Linked DNA regions of Homo sapiens. The protein of the gene in region 4 interacts with the protein of the main gene of each other region in a biochemical or structural test. Each region holds a gene or a part of one and is shown on either strand. Other genes may lie near its edges.

Region 1 (4,334 bases), on a different chromosome or scaffold from region 4:
GAGACCAGCCTGGCCAACATGGTGAAACCCCATCTCTACTAAAAACACAAAAAATTAGCAGGTGTGGTGGCACATGCCTGTAATCCCAGCTACTCGGGAGGCTGAGGCAGGAGAATCGCTTGAACCTGGGAGGCGGAGGTTGCAGTGAGCCGAGATCACACCACTGCACTCCAGCCTGGGCAACACAGCAAGACTCCGTCTCAAAAAACACAACAAAAAAACAAAAAACAGGCAGTGGGCCAGCGTTGGACTCTCAGTTGTAACCTGCCAATCCCTGTGTCGTAGAACTGCCGTGCATGGAGGGCACTTAGGACAGCGCCAATCCCTGTGTCGTAGAACTGCCGTCCATGGAGGGCACTTAGGACAGCGCCAATCCCTGTGTCGTAGAACTGCCGTCCATGGAGGGCACTTAGGACAGCGCCAATCCCTGTGTCGTAGAACTGCCGTCCATGGAGGGCACTTAGGACAGCGCCAATCCCTGTGTCGTAGAACTGCCGTGCATGGAGGGCACTTAGGACAGCGCCAATCCCTGTGTCGTAGAACTGCCGTCCATGGAGGGCACTTAGGACAGCGCCAATCCCTGTGTCGTAGAACTGCCGTGCATGGAGGGCACTTAGGACAGCGCCTGACACACACTAAGCACCAGCAAGTGGCGGGCCACTCATGGGACTTAAAATGAATGAAAACGCAGTGGATTCACCAGGAAGAGACGTGGGGAAGACATTCTGCAGCTTGATCGGGGAAACGCACCCATACGTAAAAAGTCCATGTCGATTGGGAGCATGTCAACATATATTACAGGCTCCAAAAGGTTAGCTGAATTTACCAAAACCCATGATGGAAAAGCACTGGGCTGAGCGCAGTGGCTCATGCCTGTAATCCCAACACTCTGGGAGACTGAGGTGAGCGGATCACTTGAGGTCAGGCGTCGGAGACCAACCTGACCAACATGGTGAAACCCACCCTCTACTAAAAATACAAAAATTAGCCAGACATGGTGGCAGGTGCCTGTAATCCCAGCTGCTCGGGAGGCTGAAGCAGGAGAATTGCTTGAACCCTAGAGGCGGAGGATGCAGTAAGCCGAGATCGTGCCACTGCATTCCAGCCTGGGTGACAGAGCGAGACTGTCTCAAAACAACAACAACAACAAAAAGAAAAGCACTGGAGGCCAGTGAGGGACCTAGCCCAAGTCCTGCCTGACACAGATGTGCCTCCGTCTGGGGCTCCACATCGCCTGCCCTGAAGAGCTGACTCAGTTCCTAAAGGGCTCCTCGAACAGTGAGTACCCGCCAGCAGAACCCCACCTCCTCCATGTCCCAGGCCTGAGACACAGCCGCACCCTGACAGGGCATCAGACAAGCCCTCCCTCAAATCCCATTCATCAGCTACAAGGGTCAGCCAACTATAGCCTGTGGGCTGACAGGGCCCATCACCTGGTTTTGCACATCCTGCAAGCTTTCTAAAGGGAGACCATTCTGTGGCCTGTGAGAAGCACAGGAAAGCCCAACCTCAGCAGCCACGCGTGTCGAGGTGTGCCGGCACACAGCCAGGCCCACGCACGCAGACACCGTCCGGCTGCTTTCACACACAGTGACATGGTCGCCAACCCCTGGTCTGCTATGTTACCTACCAATTACAGATGATGTTCAACACAGCTATGGGGAATGGCCCAGAACACAAGATTCAAGGCAAACACTAGGAGACAAAAACAAGTGAATACCCAGGTGCCAGACCCCACAGCAGCAGCTTTGCTGCCAACCGTCGACACACAGCAGCCCCGACGGGCACAGACTGAGCCCTCCAAGGTCCCACAGCCGCAACGCAGGCACGAGGTCCAGGCCACAAGCCCCTCGCTTCCCCAGCACCTTTGGTCTGATCCTGGCTCTGCCACGTACAAGCTGTGTGTCCTCAGCAGGTGACAGCTCATTCTCCCGGCCCTAGGCACCTTCTCTACCAGCAGGAGAGCACCCCACTCACAGAGACTTAGGGGAAGCAGGGAAAAGGCACCTATCTTCCACAGTACTTACACAACTTCCTAAGCCACTCCAGCTGGGCTGAAGGGATGGACAGGCCATGGGAACAGGACTGGGGGAGAAAGGGGCCCTTAATGGATCCCCCACTCACCAGGCACATAGACGGAGGGGTTCTCTGACATGCCAGGAAGCGGCTGGTAGTCGTGAGGCCTGCGGATCTTTAGTGACTGGCCCTGGAAGATGATGCCATCAAAGGCCATAGCCTGGGTAGTCTCGTCCACTGAGCGGAACTGAATGAAAGAGAAAGGAGTGGTGAGGGATGGGGGTCAGGGACTAGTACAGCCCCTAGTGTTCCAGGATTGGGATTTCCTCTTTCCTTTCACTCATGTGAACAAATACAACATGCCAGGCCCCAGGCTGGGCACTGGGAGTACAACAGACACGCATGTCCCTGCTGCCAGGAGCTCACACTCGACCATTAAAAACACCAGGCACCCAACACAAACACAGAGGCAAACACACAATTGCAGGCTGTGATGACACGGAAGAGGGACAAAGTGCTGAAAAGGGATGTTACGGGAAAGGTTAGTTGAACGGGGAGATGACAGTACTGGAGTCTTTCTGGTGAGGGGGACATTTCAGCCCATCTCCGGAGCAATGCAACTGCAAGTGGACTGCAGTGAGGCAAAGACAGAGTGAGAGGGACAGAGTGAGAGGGAGTGCTCAGACAGTGAGAGGGAGTGCTCAGAAATCTCTGCAGTAAGCTAACACTGCCCACACCTTCACAATACTTCATGAGAGTTATCAGTCCACCAAGAGTCGAAAATCAAAAACCAAGGCCTTTTCCCGACAGTTGAGAAACACAGACACAGAAGACTAGTTAGGAACATCAGTTAGCTGGGGTAACAGAAGACTAGTTAGGAACATCAGTTAGCTGGTGTAAAGAACTCTAGCCAAGCAGGCAGGAGCATGGTAGGTTCTGGGAAGGTCAGTGTGGCCAGAGTGCAGAGAGGACTGGGCCGGAATGGTCTGGAAAAGGCCAAAGAGGTCTACAGAGGCCAAACAGGCCTCTCAGGTCACACAGAAAGCAAATGGAAGGCAGAAAGTAGGATCAGATCTGTAATGCTATAACAGGGCTCACTTCAGCGACCGGGTGGAGAAGAGGCTGCAGAGGGCCTGGTGGAAACAGCACAAGGCAGCTCCACACAACATCAGCCTAAGGGCTGGGCCCTCACATCACACACGTTTCCTGGACCTCACTCACTCCCCCAGCTCACCTCCAAAAAGGCAAAATTCTTGTCCTGGTTAATCTGCACAGCCAACACTGGGTTGCCAGGGGCCTGGGTCAGCCCCCCCAGGCGCATCTGGGCGTTGAAGAAATCCATCATGGCCTCCTGCAGAGGGAATAGGAGACAAGGGGGGGGGCGGGGGAAGGGAGGTGGAGAGAGGAGGGGAAGGGTGAGAGAGGGAGACACAGAGGGGTTTGGGGGTAAGGGGAGAGGGATGAGGGGAGGGAGGAGGGGGGGAAGGAACAGTGGAATATGGGTGGGGGTGTAGAAGTCAATAGTAAGAACAGAAGCAAGAGAGAAAATGGGGAGGAAGCAGTAGCAAGAGACGGCCAAGGGCAGGCGATGGACAGGCGTTGGGGGACAGCCACAGGGGCCCCAAAAAATCAGGGGAAAGGAGAAGATTGTTCAAGAAAAGGCAGAGGGCATGATGACAACACAAAATGAAGAAAAACACGAAACACAAGAGATGAAGAGACAGAGCACACAGGAAGGGCCACCCAGTGGAGACAGACAGAAAAGTGGCAGGAAAGTAGAAAGGAAGTGGCAGGCAGGGGCAGAGACGAGCAAAGGACAGAAAGGGAGAGCAGGACAGAGACGAGCGAGGAGGAGGAAGTCAAGAGTGCAGGGGCAGGAGAGGAGGAGTGTAGGGAGGAGGGGCAGGGACGGGAGGGGAGGAGAAAAGAGTGATGTGGAGGAATCTGGCCCTGGAGTCCGGGGGCTGGTTTATCAAATGTAGCAAAGTGCAGGTTGAGAAAGTCAGAATGGACCTTACTTGCCTTCGACGATGGTAGCAAACTTTTTGTTGCTACGAGGGATCTCAGCCCCACAATATTTCACTTTAAAGAGAAATGGAAACAACTCTTTGATCTCGGGATTCTCAGGGGGTGCCACAGGAAGGGGTTGGGGAGAGGGGAGAGGGAAAAGGAGTGGTGGGGAAGGGGGAGGTCAGGGGCGATCAAAAATAAAAGAACAGCGACCATGGGAGGGACGTGGGGGAGAGGATAGGGGACAGGCGGCAGAGAACGAGAGGCGTGTCAGAAAAAAACTGAGGGGCAGCGTGCGTCTGTGTGTG
Region 2 (4,334 bases), on a different chromosome or scaffold from region 4:
TGCCTCTGTCTTCTTAAAAGCCACAGCCGCTCCCTTTCACCCACAGGGTTCTCTGTAGGTGGACAATGCTGCTTGCCACTGTTTTTTACCTCCAAATATGTTTTATTTTGGTAATTACCCTAAGAAAAAATTAGTTCCTCCTTACTGACATCGCAAGGATGTTATTAAGAGAGAGTAAAAAAAAAAAATAGATCTGAAGGGTTTACCCAAGAAAGGTGAGTCCTAAGGTAGAGGTGGTGATGCTACTCAATGAAAGCTCTTGTCTTTCAAGAACTTCTCTTTGTAAATCCTGGTTTGGCCCATGAGTGACCCAAGCCACTTTTAGGCTTTCCTAAACCCTAAGCATTCTTGTTTGGAAATCTCTATTCTATATTCTAAAATGCACCTCGTCACACATTAAATGTTATTGTTTTGGAAGTAAAATAAGAATTTAAAAATTGCTCTTAAAATTTTATGACTGAGAATAATTCCTTTACCACTGACAATTTTTTAACAACCATTGTTCATTTTTGAGAATTCTTGCAGTGAGAAATTTTGTTCTACACACTGCAAAATGCAGCGAATTTTGTTACAAATATTAAATTTAACAATTAATGAGTTTGACATGATGTTACTCTTTCTACCATTTACTTAAACATTCATTGATTTTGCATTTCCAGGTTTCTTTCAAGGTTTGAAAGCTGATGAATTTTGCTTACAGTTCTCTTATTTCTATAGACCCTCCCTTGAAATTCTCACAGTCCTGAGCCCTATGTCTTTATGGCTACTGGGTAAAATAGTCAAGTGAGAAATTAGCTCATCCATCCTTTGGGCATAGAGTTTGCTGCCACAAATTTAGGTCCCCTGCTTTCTAACTCTTCAGAAATAGGAGAGACATGAGATCACTTTTGTCCACTGATTCTGTCCTACACACGTTTATAAGAGAAATGGGTGAGGGACAAATTGCTAAGAGGCAATGCCAAGGTTTGAGTAGATTCCAAGTGTGATTTCGGCAGGTCTGTGGAGTTGCTTTCTCTATGGGAGAAAGTTGACGCTGAATATTTATTTTCAAACAACCGTATGTGTTTATATTGAAGCATCTGTTAGACTGTTAAATCAAAAATCCATGCCTTTTCCTATTCCCAGGTCATATACGGAATTTTTTCAAGTTGTAATTTTTTGGTTACAATATATATACTAAGACCATATGGTTTTCTCATACCATTCTTTGTATTTTCTAAATGCATATTAATAAAATGTTGGAGGCAACAAAACTTGATTGGGAACAGTTTGTATATGTGGTTCTGAAAAAGCAAAGGCTTCCACTTCAATGAGCTACAAGCTGTTAATACATTTCAAATGTGTTGCTAGACTGAAAATGAGCACTTTCCAGCATAGATTCAGAAAAAGCTGACCTTTCTCACAGTGCTATTGTATGGATAAATTCACAAAAATATCCATGTCCATGTAGCCAACATGCAAAGCAGAGTTTATAAGTTGGGTGATATGTACAGGAGGCTAGCGAGGATTTAGAAGAAAATGAACGTAAAATTGATTTTTACAGTATATTACTTCCCTGAGTAGATGTCAGTTAAAGTTACTTTAATCATTTTATCACATCGATTGATATTACTTACACTATAATAAAAGGTAATCTTTTGGTAATAAGTCTAAGGCAGTGCTGTAACTGGAATTTGGGAGGAAAGACCCACCTCCCATCTGTTCTTAAGCTTCTGAAATATGTTCAGCACAGCTTAGCTTCTCTTGGTACGGATACTGCTGTCAATATTTACATGCTGCTGTCTTCTAGGGAGCCATAAACTATCTTCAAGTATTGTAACATAGCAGCTAGAATGATGTGCCTAGATTTTTCTTTGAATTTCATAAAACAAAGCTGTATCTGTATGATTTCAATGAAATCAAGAAAATTCTGACTTTGTCCACCCAGCTAAATGTGATCTCTTTGACAAAGGAAGAGTCTCATTCAGCTTCCCAAGGGGACTTGCAATCACTCATTGTTGGGGTTTTTCTTCTGGAAATGCTGCTTAACACAATTGGCGTTGCAGCACACAGGCAAGGCACTGGTTTCCGTTACGATGCGCTTGCCCAAATACTGGAACTGGGTGATCTGGTTTGAAAAAGAGCCAGCTTTTTTTTTTTTTTTCCTAAACTTCCTCATTTTGAGTGGGTTAATTCTGTTCTAGGAAAAGTTTTCACAGAATTGCTTTCTGAGCGCCAGCAAAATGTTATGTTAGAAATAATGGTGTTTACTTCCATTCTCGATTTTTTTCCATAAACTTTTAGAAGTTCATTTCCTAAATCTAACTTTTATTATCTTACTTGACCTAGCCAATATAAATGGCATTAAGTCATTATTGCCATCCACATAACAGTACTTTGTGCTTCACAAAATAGGAAAAAAAAATATATAGCTCTTTCATCCCCTAAACACCAGGTTGATCTGGCTGTTCTTTTAAGGACGTCAGAAATGGATGGAAGCAGCCTGAACTTTGCCCCATATGAATTCGCTGCATTCCATCTAGGTCTTGAATCTGTTAGATCATCGTCCTAGGTCGGGTTCCCTTGATGCAGAGCTTGGGGTAAGCCTGCTTGTGCAGGTGACTGATTAACGGCATGTTCTCAGGAGAGAGAGAATGGGAAGTGCTGCAGGGGCAGCGCTAAGGAAGTTTCTGGCCTCCTCCAAGCCTCCTTGCAGCTGGACGCTGTTTCAGCCCAATCCCACGGGAGCCCTGAAGCCTGAATAGCGTCATGGAGTTGGTCTTTCCTTGAGGCAAGGGGGCCGGCCCGTGGTACCCCGTTCAGTCCACCCAGCTGTGGGATACCTGGGGGTGGGCGAGGCGGCGGCTCTGTTCAGGCAAGGGCAGTTCTCTGGAGAAGTGGGTGGCCATGGAACGAGAGCAGTCCGCACCCCTGCAGCTGAGGGATGGACGGACAGGCCTGGTGAAGGGAATGTGGGCGGCACACCAATAGCACCTCCTTCCGTCATCACAGAGAGCCTCTTTCCCCTGGAACCTGTGCTCACTGGAGTTTTCCTTCCTCTCCTGACCTCATTAGGCAGTGGCCAGATCCAGCTTTGGCAGTTCCTCCTGGAGCTCCTGTCGGACAGCTCCAACTCCAGCTGCATCACCTGGGAAGGCACCAACGGGGAGTTCAAGATGACGGATCCCGACGAGGTGGCCCGGCGCTGGGGAGAGCGGAAGAGCAAACCCAACATGAACTACGATAAGCTCAGCCGCGCCCTCCGTTACTACTATGACAAGAACATCATGACCAAGGTCCATGGGAAGCGCTACGCCTACAAGTTCGACTTCCACGGGATCGCCCAGGCCCTCCAGCCCCACCCCCCGGAGTCATCTCTGTACAAGTACCCCTCAGACCTCCCGTACATGGGCTCCTATCACGCCCACCCACAGAAGATGAACTTTGTGGCGCCCCACCCTCCAGCCCTCCCCGTGACATCTTCCAGTTTTTTTGCTGCCCCAAACCCATACTGGAATTCACCAACTGGGGGTATATACCCCAACACTAGGCTCCCCACCAGCCATATGCCTTCTCATCTGGGCACTTACTACTAAAGACCTGGCGGAGGCTTTTCCCATCAGCGTGCATTCACCAGCCCATCGCCACAAACTCTATCGGAGAACATGAATCAAAAGTGCCTCAAGAGGAATGAAAAAAGCTTTACTGGGGCTGGGGAAGGAAGCCGGGGAAGAGATCCAAAGACTCTTGGGAGGGAGTTACTGAAGTCTTACTACAGAAATGAGGAGGATGCTAAAAATGTCACGAATATGGACATATCATCTGTGGACTGACCTTGTAAAAGACAGTGTATGTAGAAGCATGAAGTCTTAAGGACAAAGTGCCAAAGAAAGTGGTCTTAAGAAATGTATAAACTTTAGAGTAGAGTTTGGAATCCCACTAATGCAAACTGGGATGAAACTAAAGCAATAGAAACAACACAGTTTTGACCTAACATACCGTTTATAATGCCATTTTAAGGAAAACTACCTGTATTTAAAAATAGAAACATATCAAAAACAAGAGAAAAGACACGAGAGAGACTGTGGCCCATCAACAGACGTTGATATGCAACTGCATGGCATGTGCTGTTTTGGTTGAAATCAAATACATTCCGTTTGATGGACAGCTGTCAGCTTTCTCAAACTGTGAAGATGACCCAAAGTTTCCAACTCCTTTACAGTATTACCGGGACTATGAACTAAAAGGTGGGACTGAGGATGTGTATAGAGTGAGCGTGTGATTGTAGACAGAGGGGTGAAGAAGGAGGAGGAAGAGGCAGAGAAGGAGGAGACCAGGGCTGGGAAAGAAACTTC
Region 3 (3,954 bases), on a different chromosome or scaffold from region 4:
CTCATATGAAAGGGCTAGTGACTTAAGAGTCCATCTGAAAGGATTTCTAAAGTTTTTATTTTAAAAAAATTATTATTTTACCACAGTAATGACTACGTATAAAGTTTTTATTTCTAGTCGGAATTCCGTCTTGTATGACTTGAGAGCTCCTTCCTGGCTTTAGGACTATGAGGTCTTGAGGACCCTCCTTTTGAATGACACTGTCCCTCCAGAGAGTAAACCAAGAGCTGGAAATACATGATCATTGGTACTCAGATGGGGATGAAAGTGAAAGTGTTATAGACCAGCTGTCCTTTTTAGGAGGTCTCAGTCCTTTGAGCATCTGATAAAAGCTTTAGACTCCTTCCACAGAAGAATACACTCATGTTGCATATATTTCAGGGGATACATGGACTCTAGGTCAAGAAACCCTGCTCTAGATACAGAATGGTATACAAGGCCAGGAGTTCAAGACCTGCCTGGCCAACATGGCGAATCCCTGCCTTGGGGATCAGGAGACAAGATTCTACTTCAGGCCTTGTTACTAGCCATGTGTGTGACTAGTTGCCTAGCTTTTTTGGTTTTCTCTTCATGTATGAGATAATCTGGGTGGTGGCCTTTTAGCTTTTAATGTGGAAACAGCATAGATTGGTTGTAAGGCCTGGGTTCAAATACTGGCTTGCCTACTCTTACGAAACTGGAGAAAATATTTAACCTTATCTGGGTTTCAATTATCTATGAAATACAGTCTTCCTAACCTACTGTCTTAAAAGAATTTTAATTTGGATGAAATTACACAGTGTCTGTGAAGGTACTTTATCAGTTTTCCTTCCCAGTGTACATTAGCCACTCTTCTGCTCCCATAGCATTTCCATGTGTCTCTCCTAGGTTAACACATGGTTTTGCTGTTGTCTCTATATTCATCTGTCACCCTGGGCAGGTTGTGAGTTCCTCCAGGGCTCGTACCATATATTATTTTTGTTTTTGTGTTGATAGCACTTGTGCGATACATGGTAAGCACCCGATGTATACTAAATGAATAATATAGAAAATAGTAGAATAGGCCAGATGTGGTGGCTCACACCTGTAATCCCGGCACTTTGGGAGGCCGAGACAGGCAGATCACCAGAGGTTAGGAGTTCGAGACCACCCTGGCCAAATGGTGAAACCCCCTCTCTAAAAAAAAATACAAAAATTAGCTGGGCATGGTGGCACGCGCCTGTAATGCAATTACTCAGGAGGCTCAAGTGGGAGAATCGCTTGAACCTGGGAGGCTGAGGCTGCAGTGAGTGAGCCGAGATCATGCCACTGCACTCCAGTCTGGGCGACAGAGTGAGATCCTGTTTCAACAAAAGAAAAGAAAATAGAAGAATAATATAAAAAGTGGTTGTGATTGGTTTACTAGGGCATTATAAAATTTATTGATAGTACTCAATTAAGGGATGCTTAAAATCAGTGAAGTTAGAGAATGTTTCAGAAAGCCAAAATGAAAGGACAGGGAATAAAGCAGGGGCATCTTCAGAAGAGTGCAGAGCAGCTCAGAACCTTTGTGCTTCTATTTTCCTTGTATCTGGAATGGTTTTCACCAGCTCATCTCATGCCTGGCTCCTCCTCATTCTTCAGGTCTCAGCTTCAGTGTCACCTTTTCAGAGGGGTTTTCCCTGACCACCCTAGCTGAAGTAGCTCCCTGTTTCCCTATCTGTTACAGCTTTCTACTTCTTGTATGAAACATTTCTTTTTTTAAGATGGAGTTTCGCTCTTGTTGCCCAGGCTGGAGTGCAATGGCACGATCTCGGCTCACTGCAAACTCCGCCTCCCAGGTTCAAGTGGTTCTCCAGCCTCAGCCTCCTGAGTTGCTGAGATTACAGGCACCCACCAGCATGCCTGGCTAATTTTTGTATTTTTAGTAGAGATGGGGTTTCACCACGTTGGCCAGGCTGGTCTTGAACTCCTGACCTCAGGTGATCCTCCCACCTCGGCTTCCCAAAGTGCTGGGATTACAAGCATGAGCCACCGTGCCAAGCCGAAACATTTCTTAAGATTTATAATTATTTCAGGGCTGGGCGCAGTGGCTCACGCCTGTAATGCCAGCACTTTGGAAGGCTGAAGTGGGCAGATCACAAGGTCAGGAGTTTGAGAACAGCCTGACCAACATGGTGAAACCTCGTCTCTACTAAAAATACAAAACTTAGCCAGGCGTGGTGGTGCATGCCTATAATCCCAGCTACTCAGGAGGCTGAGGCAGGAGAGCCGCTTGAACCCGGGAGGTGGAGGTTGCAGTGAGCCAAGATCATGCCACTGTACTCCAGCCTGGGCGACAGAGTGCGACTCCGTCTCAAAAAGAAAAAAAAAAGATTTATAATGATTTCATATTTATTTAATGTCTTTCTACTGCCTGAATATAAGCTTGAAGGAAGGGATGATGCTTATCTTTTTCACTATTGTATTTCTAGTGCCTGTCGCAGAAAGAACATAGTCTATGTGTTGAATAGGTTAATAGAAGTTTAGGGTACAGGAGCTTAGGTCTAAATTATAGATTGAGAAACAGCTGTTTTTCTGTTCCATTACTGTGATCATGCTTTATTGTATACCTGGCACCTGGCACTAGGGTGACCAACCTTCCCAGTTTGCCCAGTACTGAGAGATTTTCTGGGACACTGGACTTTCAGTGCTAAAACCTGGACAGTCCCAGTCAAATCAGGATGATTTGGTTTGACCCTACCTGGCATGTAGCAGGCACTTGGTACTTTGTACTTTTTAAAACTCTTTGATACTTGTTACCTCTTTTGATTATTAAACCCACGTGGAAGGTAGGGCACGTGATAGAGCCTGATGGCACTGGATACATGAAGCATCCGAAGCTCACAGAGGCTAAGTTACACGCTTAGGTGTTCTTATTCCTACTCTAAGATTTTAATGCCAGTCAAGAAAATTGTAGCACTTTGGGAGGCTGAGGTGGGTGGATCACTTGAGGCCAGGAGTTCGAGACCTGCCTGGCCAACATGGCAAAACCCCATCTCTACTAAAAATACAAAAATTAGTCGGGCATGGTGGCGCACACCTGCACAAGAATTGGTTGACTCTGTCTCAAAAAAATAAGAAAATAATGTTAGCTCAGTGTCCAATACGTGGTAGGTACAGATACATGCTTTTAAAAGTTCAAATTATAATATGGCTCTCAAGGTGTGAGGTTGATAATTAGGGCTGGGACACTTAAGATGGAGAGTCTTTAAAGTGGGGTTAGTGTCTATCCCTATTCTAGTTCCTAAGAAGATATAAGAGGAAGAAAGAGAGTTGCTTTGTTTAGTTTTGTTTTGAGCTTCCTGAACAAAGTGTGTGTGAGAGAACTGATAGAAGAAAGTAGATCTCCACTTTTCAAAGGCGTATTAGCGTCTGCCTTATGCGTGGCACTAAAGGAATAAATGAAGTACGCATAAGATCACCTTTGCTCTTAAGGAACTGAAAATCTTATTAAGTTTTTAGAAGTCAAAAGTCTGAAAGTTGTTAAGACTTGCCAGAGCCTAAAGAACATTCTAAAACCCCTCGTCAGGCCCACACAACCTGACAAAGTGAGCGCATTCATTGACAGTGGCACCCTCCAATCACCCCCAGTACCCTATTCCTTTTCAATTTTACAGGAAGCACAAGCTTGAACAGGGCCCAGACTATAGTCCTATCCTAGATCAAGTCTAGGCAGGTACCTCCTCTTCCCATGGCTCCACTGCTTTTATTCAACCCTATGTAAGGACTGTGGCAGATGGAGAGTCAGCCCACAGTCTTAAACCTCATTCCACAGTTGCACTGGGTGGTTGGAACACAGATGGAGGCAAGGGGGCCATCTTGTCACCCAGAGCCTGAACTGAGTGGGACCTCTACCCATTGTCTCCACTAACAGTCACATGGCCACCTGCTGCCTGCAATTTAGCGTTGCGTTGCTCCTCAAACTTCTCTACCTCTCCCAGAGGAAGTTGGTGA
Region 4 (5,169 bases):
TCTTTAGTAGAGACAGGGTTTTACCATGTTGGCCAGGCTAGTCTCTTAACTCCTGATCTCATGATCTACCCGCCTTAGCCTCCCAAAGTCCTGGGTTTACAGGCGTGAGCCACCGCACCGGCCCTTGAGTTTTGAGAGGAGCAGGAGTAGAGGGATCTCATTTCTTGACTTACCAAACAAGAACCAGCTTTCTATCTTGCTAGCTTCTATAAGGAAAGTAAATGTGAGAGTTAGGCATATATTTGCACTATATTAAAAGCTATTTGGCTCTTTTTTCCCACCTAGAATTCATTGCTAACTGCTGGTTTTTGGTATTTGCTGTTCTGCTGACCCTACGTATGTCATACGGAAAGCTGGGCTTTCTTTGGGTTCTGAACCCCAAGATTACACCCACCATCACTATTGTCTTTGTTTTTCCCAGCATATTGCCAATTATATCTCTGGGATCCAGACTATCGGACATAGGGTAATTGTATCTGATGTCCAAGAAAGTTTCATCTGGGTTCGCTACAAGCGTAATGAAAACCAGCTTATCATCTTTGCTGATGATACCTACCCCCGATGGGTCACTACAGCCAGCCTCCTGGACTATGACACTGTGGCTGGGGCAGACAAGTTTGGCAACATATGTGTGGTGAGTTGATGTTGTTAACTTGGGTTACAGTGATGTGTAGGAAAGCTGGCTCAGTTTCTTGTGGGTAAAGCCAAGGAGGAATCAAATCTGAGAAGTAAAAATGGATATAAAATTCCATCCTACTAAAGCTAACTCTACAAGCAATCTGTTCTTTAAGCCTTCTTACTAGTCTTTTGGATTTTTCTCTGTGGTTTATCTCCCTCCTCCCTATTGAACGTGATTTAATGATAGGTTTAGTTTGAGCTAATGGCTAATATTTCTTTTTACATTTTATAAGAACTTTGGAATGTCTGTTATCTATGTTGTGTGGTTTTGGTTTTACCCTTAGCTGTGTTAAACTCTTGCTCATGGGTCGATTCTTTTGAGTTTCTTGCTCCTCAGACACAGCTCCTGCCCACCAGAGCAGGTGCAGGACACGTGGGCTCAGGCCTCTGTCTAGGCAGTGCCCCTGTGGCTGACTTGCAAAGACCTGGCCAGACCTGTTGCTTGGTGACTCAGGTGAGCAGGTCCGGGCCCCAGCAGTGTGACTTGTGTCACTTCCTTGTAGGTGAGGCTCCCACCTAACACCAATGATGAAGTAGATGAGGATCCTACAGGAAACAAAGCCCTGTGGGACCGTGGCTTGCTCAATGGGGCCTCCCAGAAGGTAAGATTGCAGAATGGGCCCCAGGGAGAACACTGCTTAGCACTTTTCCTGTTGCCCTCACTGAAGAAATTGCCTTTGGTGAATTATTCATAGTGCACACGACTGTGCTGAGTGCTGTCCGTCCACAGTCCTTTCTTACCAATCTGCAAAAAATCTCCTTGGAGAGTAGCGAGTTTCTTAGAGAGAGTCCATTCCCAGTCCTCTGCTCTGAGGTGTGTCCTGGGCTTTACTTTCTCCTGTAGGCATGTGCTGCTTTAATAGAGCATCTCTGGACTTTCGGGCAAATCTATTTTAGAAGACAAGCCTAGTGATTGCTGTTTTCTATAATTTTCTTTGTGTTTTCCTTTTTTATGGCAAGCTTGATAAATTTAACAAAATGATTCTTATCGTAAGAAATGATGAACAGTAACTTTAGCATGTTTTATGAGGCATTAAGCTTTAAGTAAATGTGAGAATTTTAAAATATTTGTAGGGTTTAATAATTTTTGGATTTATTGTTTGTTTTTGAGACAAGGTCTCACTCAGTCGCCCGGGCTGGAGTGTGGTGGTACAATCACAGATCACTGCAGCTTCCACCTCCTGGGCTCAAGTGATCCTTCCCACTCAGCCTCCTGAGTAGCTGAGACTATAGTACATGCCACCAAACCTGGCAGATTTTGTGGGTATGGGTATACGAGACCTCACTGTGTTGCCCAGGCTGGTCTTGAAATCCTGGGCTCAAGCAATCCTCCCACGTTGGCCTCTATAATAATTTTTGGATGTTAATAGATGATGAAATGTGCCTTAGGGAGCACTGCTTGCCCTTGGGAGTCCAGGGAGGCTCCTGAGGGTGCACACAGTCACTAGTCTGTTTGTGACTCACAGGCAGAGGTGATCATGAACTACCATGTCGGGGAGACGGTGCTGTCCTTGCAGAAGACCACGCTGATCCCTGGAGGCTCAGAATCACTTGTCTATACCACCTTGTCTGGAGGAATTGGCATCCTTGTGCCATTCACGTCCCATGAGGTGAGAGCGCCCACATTACTCTGGCCTTGACTTTTAAGGTTGTTTCTTGGTGCTGGATCTACCTAAGAGGTCAAATTCATTTGTCCCCACATATAATTAATAATGTTCTGGGAATTATAAAGTGACAGAAGTACTTGGGGAGATAGGAATCTTGATTCTCCCGCACCCAGGGAAGGCCATTTGGTTTTTTTTTTTTTTTTTGCGACGGAGTCTCACTGTTACCCGGGCTGGAGTGCAGTGGCGCAATCTCAGCTCATTGCAAACTCCACCTCCCAGGTTCACGCCATTCTCCTGCCTCAGCCTCCCAAGTAGCTGGGAATACAGGCGCCCGCCACCATGCCCGGCTAATTTTTTGTATTTTTAATAGAGATGGGGTTTCACCGTGTTAGCCAGGGTGGTCTCGATCTCTTGACCTTGTGATCCGCCTGCCTCAGCCTCCCAAAGTGCTGGGATTACAGGCGTGAGCCACCCGCGCCCGGCCAGGCCGTTTGTTTTTATAGTGTCCCAGGGTTTGCTTCAGTCTGATGCGAGTTTACAAGGTTAGCCTGAGCCCAGAGCTTTAGAACTGGACTCCACAGACTAGGATTGCCAGGATTGATGGGATGATCCCTCCTGGGGCACACACTGCCATATGGAATCAACTCTAGGTTTGCCAGAGTTTGGCATGTTTTATTCCAGCCAAGGAAGCTGGGATCAGGAATCTGACCTCACAAACCATTCTTTATGTGTGGCATTCTCTCTTGCACTGCAGACAACATGTGGTCTCCTTTTGGGGTTTAACTATCGTGTTGTAGCAGAAAAACCTGTGATTATCAGAAAGTGATTAGATATTTCCCGTGTGTTTGTGTAGTAAAAATGAATGGCTTGTCTGTTCGTTGTGCTTGTGGAAACTCTAGACTAGTTGAAATCACTTCTCAGTGACAGATTTTTTGTTTCTTCTGCCAGGACCATGACTTCTTCCAGCATGTGGAAATGCACCTGCGGTCTGAACATCCCCCTCTCTGTGGGCGGGACCACCTCAGCTTTCGCTCCTACTACTTCCCTGTGAAGGTAGGTTGGGGGAATCTGAGCTGAAAAGGGAGATCTGAGAAAGGAGCAGCACAGGGAGTGGATTGATGGGAATAGTACCAGGGAGGGTGCTCCCCTCAGGGCAGACCACAGCCAGAGCAAAGGCTTCACCTGCTTCTGCCAATCTGAACTCTGAGTACCAAGAGTCAACTTAAGATAGTGTTCCTGGATCTACAAGTGGGGTTCAAGTATCGAGTGGAGAATAAAAAGTTTTCCCGGTCTGGGCGTGGTGGCACACATTTGTGGTCCCAGCCAATCGGGAGGCTGAGCCCCAGATTTTGAGAGTGCAGTGAGCTAAGATTATCCCACTGCACTGCAACCCGGATGATAGGGTGAGACCCTGTCTCAAAAACTAAAAAATAAAAACAGCTTTCCCTACAAGTGCTGCTTTAGCATGTGCCATTTTCTTTGGGCATCTCACCATTTTTTTTCTTTCTGCTTTCTCCATATCTTAGAATGTGATTGATGGAGACCTCTGTGAGCAGTTCAATTCCATGGAACCCAACAAACAAAAGAACGTCTCTGAAGAACTGGACCGAACCCCACCCGAAGTGTCCAAGAAACTCGAGGATATCCGGACCCGCTACGCCTTCTGAGCCCTCCTTTCCCGGTGGGGCTTGCCAGAGACTGTGTGTTTTGTTTCCCCCACCACCATCACTGCCACCTGGCTTCTGCCATGTGGCAGGAGGGTGACTGGATAATTAAGACTGCATTATGAAAGTCAACAGCTCTTTCCCCTCAGCTCTTCTCCTGGAATGACTGGCTTCCCCTCAAATTGGCACTGAGATTTGCTACACTTCTCCCCACCTGGTACATGATACATGACCCCAGGTTCCAGTGTAGAACCTGAGTCCCCCATTCCCCAAAGCCATCCCTGCATTGATATGTCTTGACTCTCCTGTCTACTTTTGCACACACCCTTAATTTTTAATTGGTTTTCTTGTAAATACAGTTTTGTACAATGTTATCTCTGTGGGAGGAAGGAGGCAGGCTGTGGTGGGACTGGGTAGGGTATAGTATCACTCCTGAGTTCCACTGCTCTAGAATCTAACCAGAAATAGAAACCTAGTTTTTAAGGTGACTGGCATCCATGTGTCTTGTTCTGGAGATGAGGATGTAGGTGGGAGGTTTGAACCCAAGTTAGAGCAGGAAGAACTGAGTAGACTCCTTCCTTCCAGATACCGACTTGGACTTGCGGCACTCTGTGGCTCCCCACCCCCAGGTCTGTGGTGGTTTCTTTGTTTTTTCCTGGTTCTTTTTGCTGTGCTGATGAAACATGACCTCAATAACCATGTGTATACCCACCCCTCTTCCCACTGGGTATTGAGGAAGGGTGGCTGATTCTTCCTCCTCTTCTACTCTGAGGATGTTAGTATGGGGATTTTAGCATGAATTCTAGCTGGGGAGTCTTAACAGATGCCCCTTTTACTGATACAGCACCTAAAGCGATCTTTGGCTCCATAGGACCATAGGAAGGGTCAGTACAGAAGAACCTAGATACTGCCCTGCCCCTGAGAACTGTGTATATGTGGGGCCTGTCTGCAGCACCCATCTCAGGTGGGTTCCAGAGGGCCTTTAGGGTATAATGAGAGCCTGTTAGGTGGAAGAGGCCCAGTTCCAGAAATGTTCCAGCCCACCCCTGAGAATTCCTCCTGTTTAGTTGTGTGGGAAGCCCTCGTCTTCCAGGCTGTCCTTGCGCCTTGAACCTGGAGAAGTGAGCTCACTGTTCTCAATACTTCACAAATGTAAAACTTTCTTTCGTCTGCATGTGCTCAGCCATCTAAATTGAGCAAATGATCTGGTGAGCACTGGG

Evidence for each region. The genes of interacting proteins can lie anywhere in the genome.
Region 1: the proteins of SF3B3 (region 4) and U2AF2 form a complex in vitro, tested with the Homo sapiens proteins (one study listed by BioGRID).
Region 2: the proteins of SF3B3 (region 4) and ERG form a complex in vitro, tested with the Homo sapiens proteins (one large-scale study listed by BioGRID).
Region 3: the proteins of SF3B3 (region 4) and SF3B6 form a complex in vitro, tested with the Homo sapiens proteins (one study listed by BioGRID).

The regions. Positions count from the first base shown.
Region 1 is NC_000019.10:55,661,535-55,665,868, reverse strand, and holds part of U2AF2 (splicing factor U2AF 65 kDa subunit), read right to left. Parts: intron 4,099-4,334; exon of another isoform or gene 4,039-4,098; intron 3,368-4,038; coding exon 3,251-3,367; intron 2,264-3,250; coding exon 2,125-2,263; intron 1-2,124. UniProt on the Homo sapiens protein: Plays a role in pre-mRNA splicing and 3'-end processing. By recruiting PRPF19 and the PRP19C/Prp19 complex/NTC/Nineteen complex to the RNA polymerase II C-terminal domain (CTD), and thereby pre-mRNA, may couple transcription to splicing.
Region 2 is NC_000021.9:38,382,644-38,386,977, reverse strand, and holds part of ERG (transcriptional regulator ERG), read left to right. Parts: intron 1-3,054; coding exon 3,055-3,575; 3' UTR 3,576-4,334. UniProt on the Homo sapiens protein: Transcriptional regulator. May participate in transcriptional regulation through the recruitment of SETDB1 histone methyltransferase and subsequent modification of local chromatin structure.
Region 3 is NC_000002.12:24,069,373-24,073,326, reverse strand, and holds part of SF3B6 (splicing factor 3B subunit 6), read left to right. Parts: intron 1-3,954.
Region 4 is NC_000016.10:70,567,862-70,573,030, forward strand, and holds part of SF3B3 (splicing factor 3B subunit 3), read left to right. Parts: intron 1-421; coding exon 422-634; intron 635-1,181; coding exon 1,182-1,280; intron 1,281-2,144; coding exon 2,145-2,288; intron 2,289-3,233; coding exon 3,234-3,338; intron 3,339-3,811; coding exon 3,812-3,952; 3' UTR 3,953-5,169. UniProt on the Homo sapiens protein: Component of the 17S U2 SnRNP complex of the spliceosome, a large ribonucleoprotein complex that removes introns from transcribed pre-mRNAs.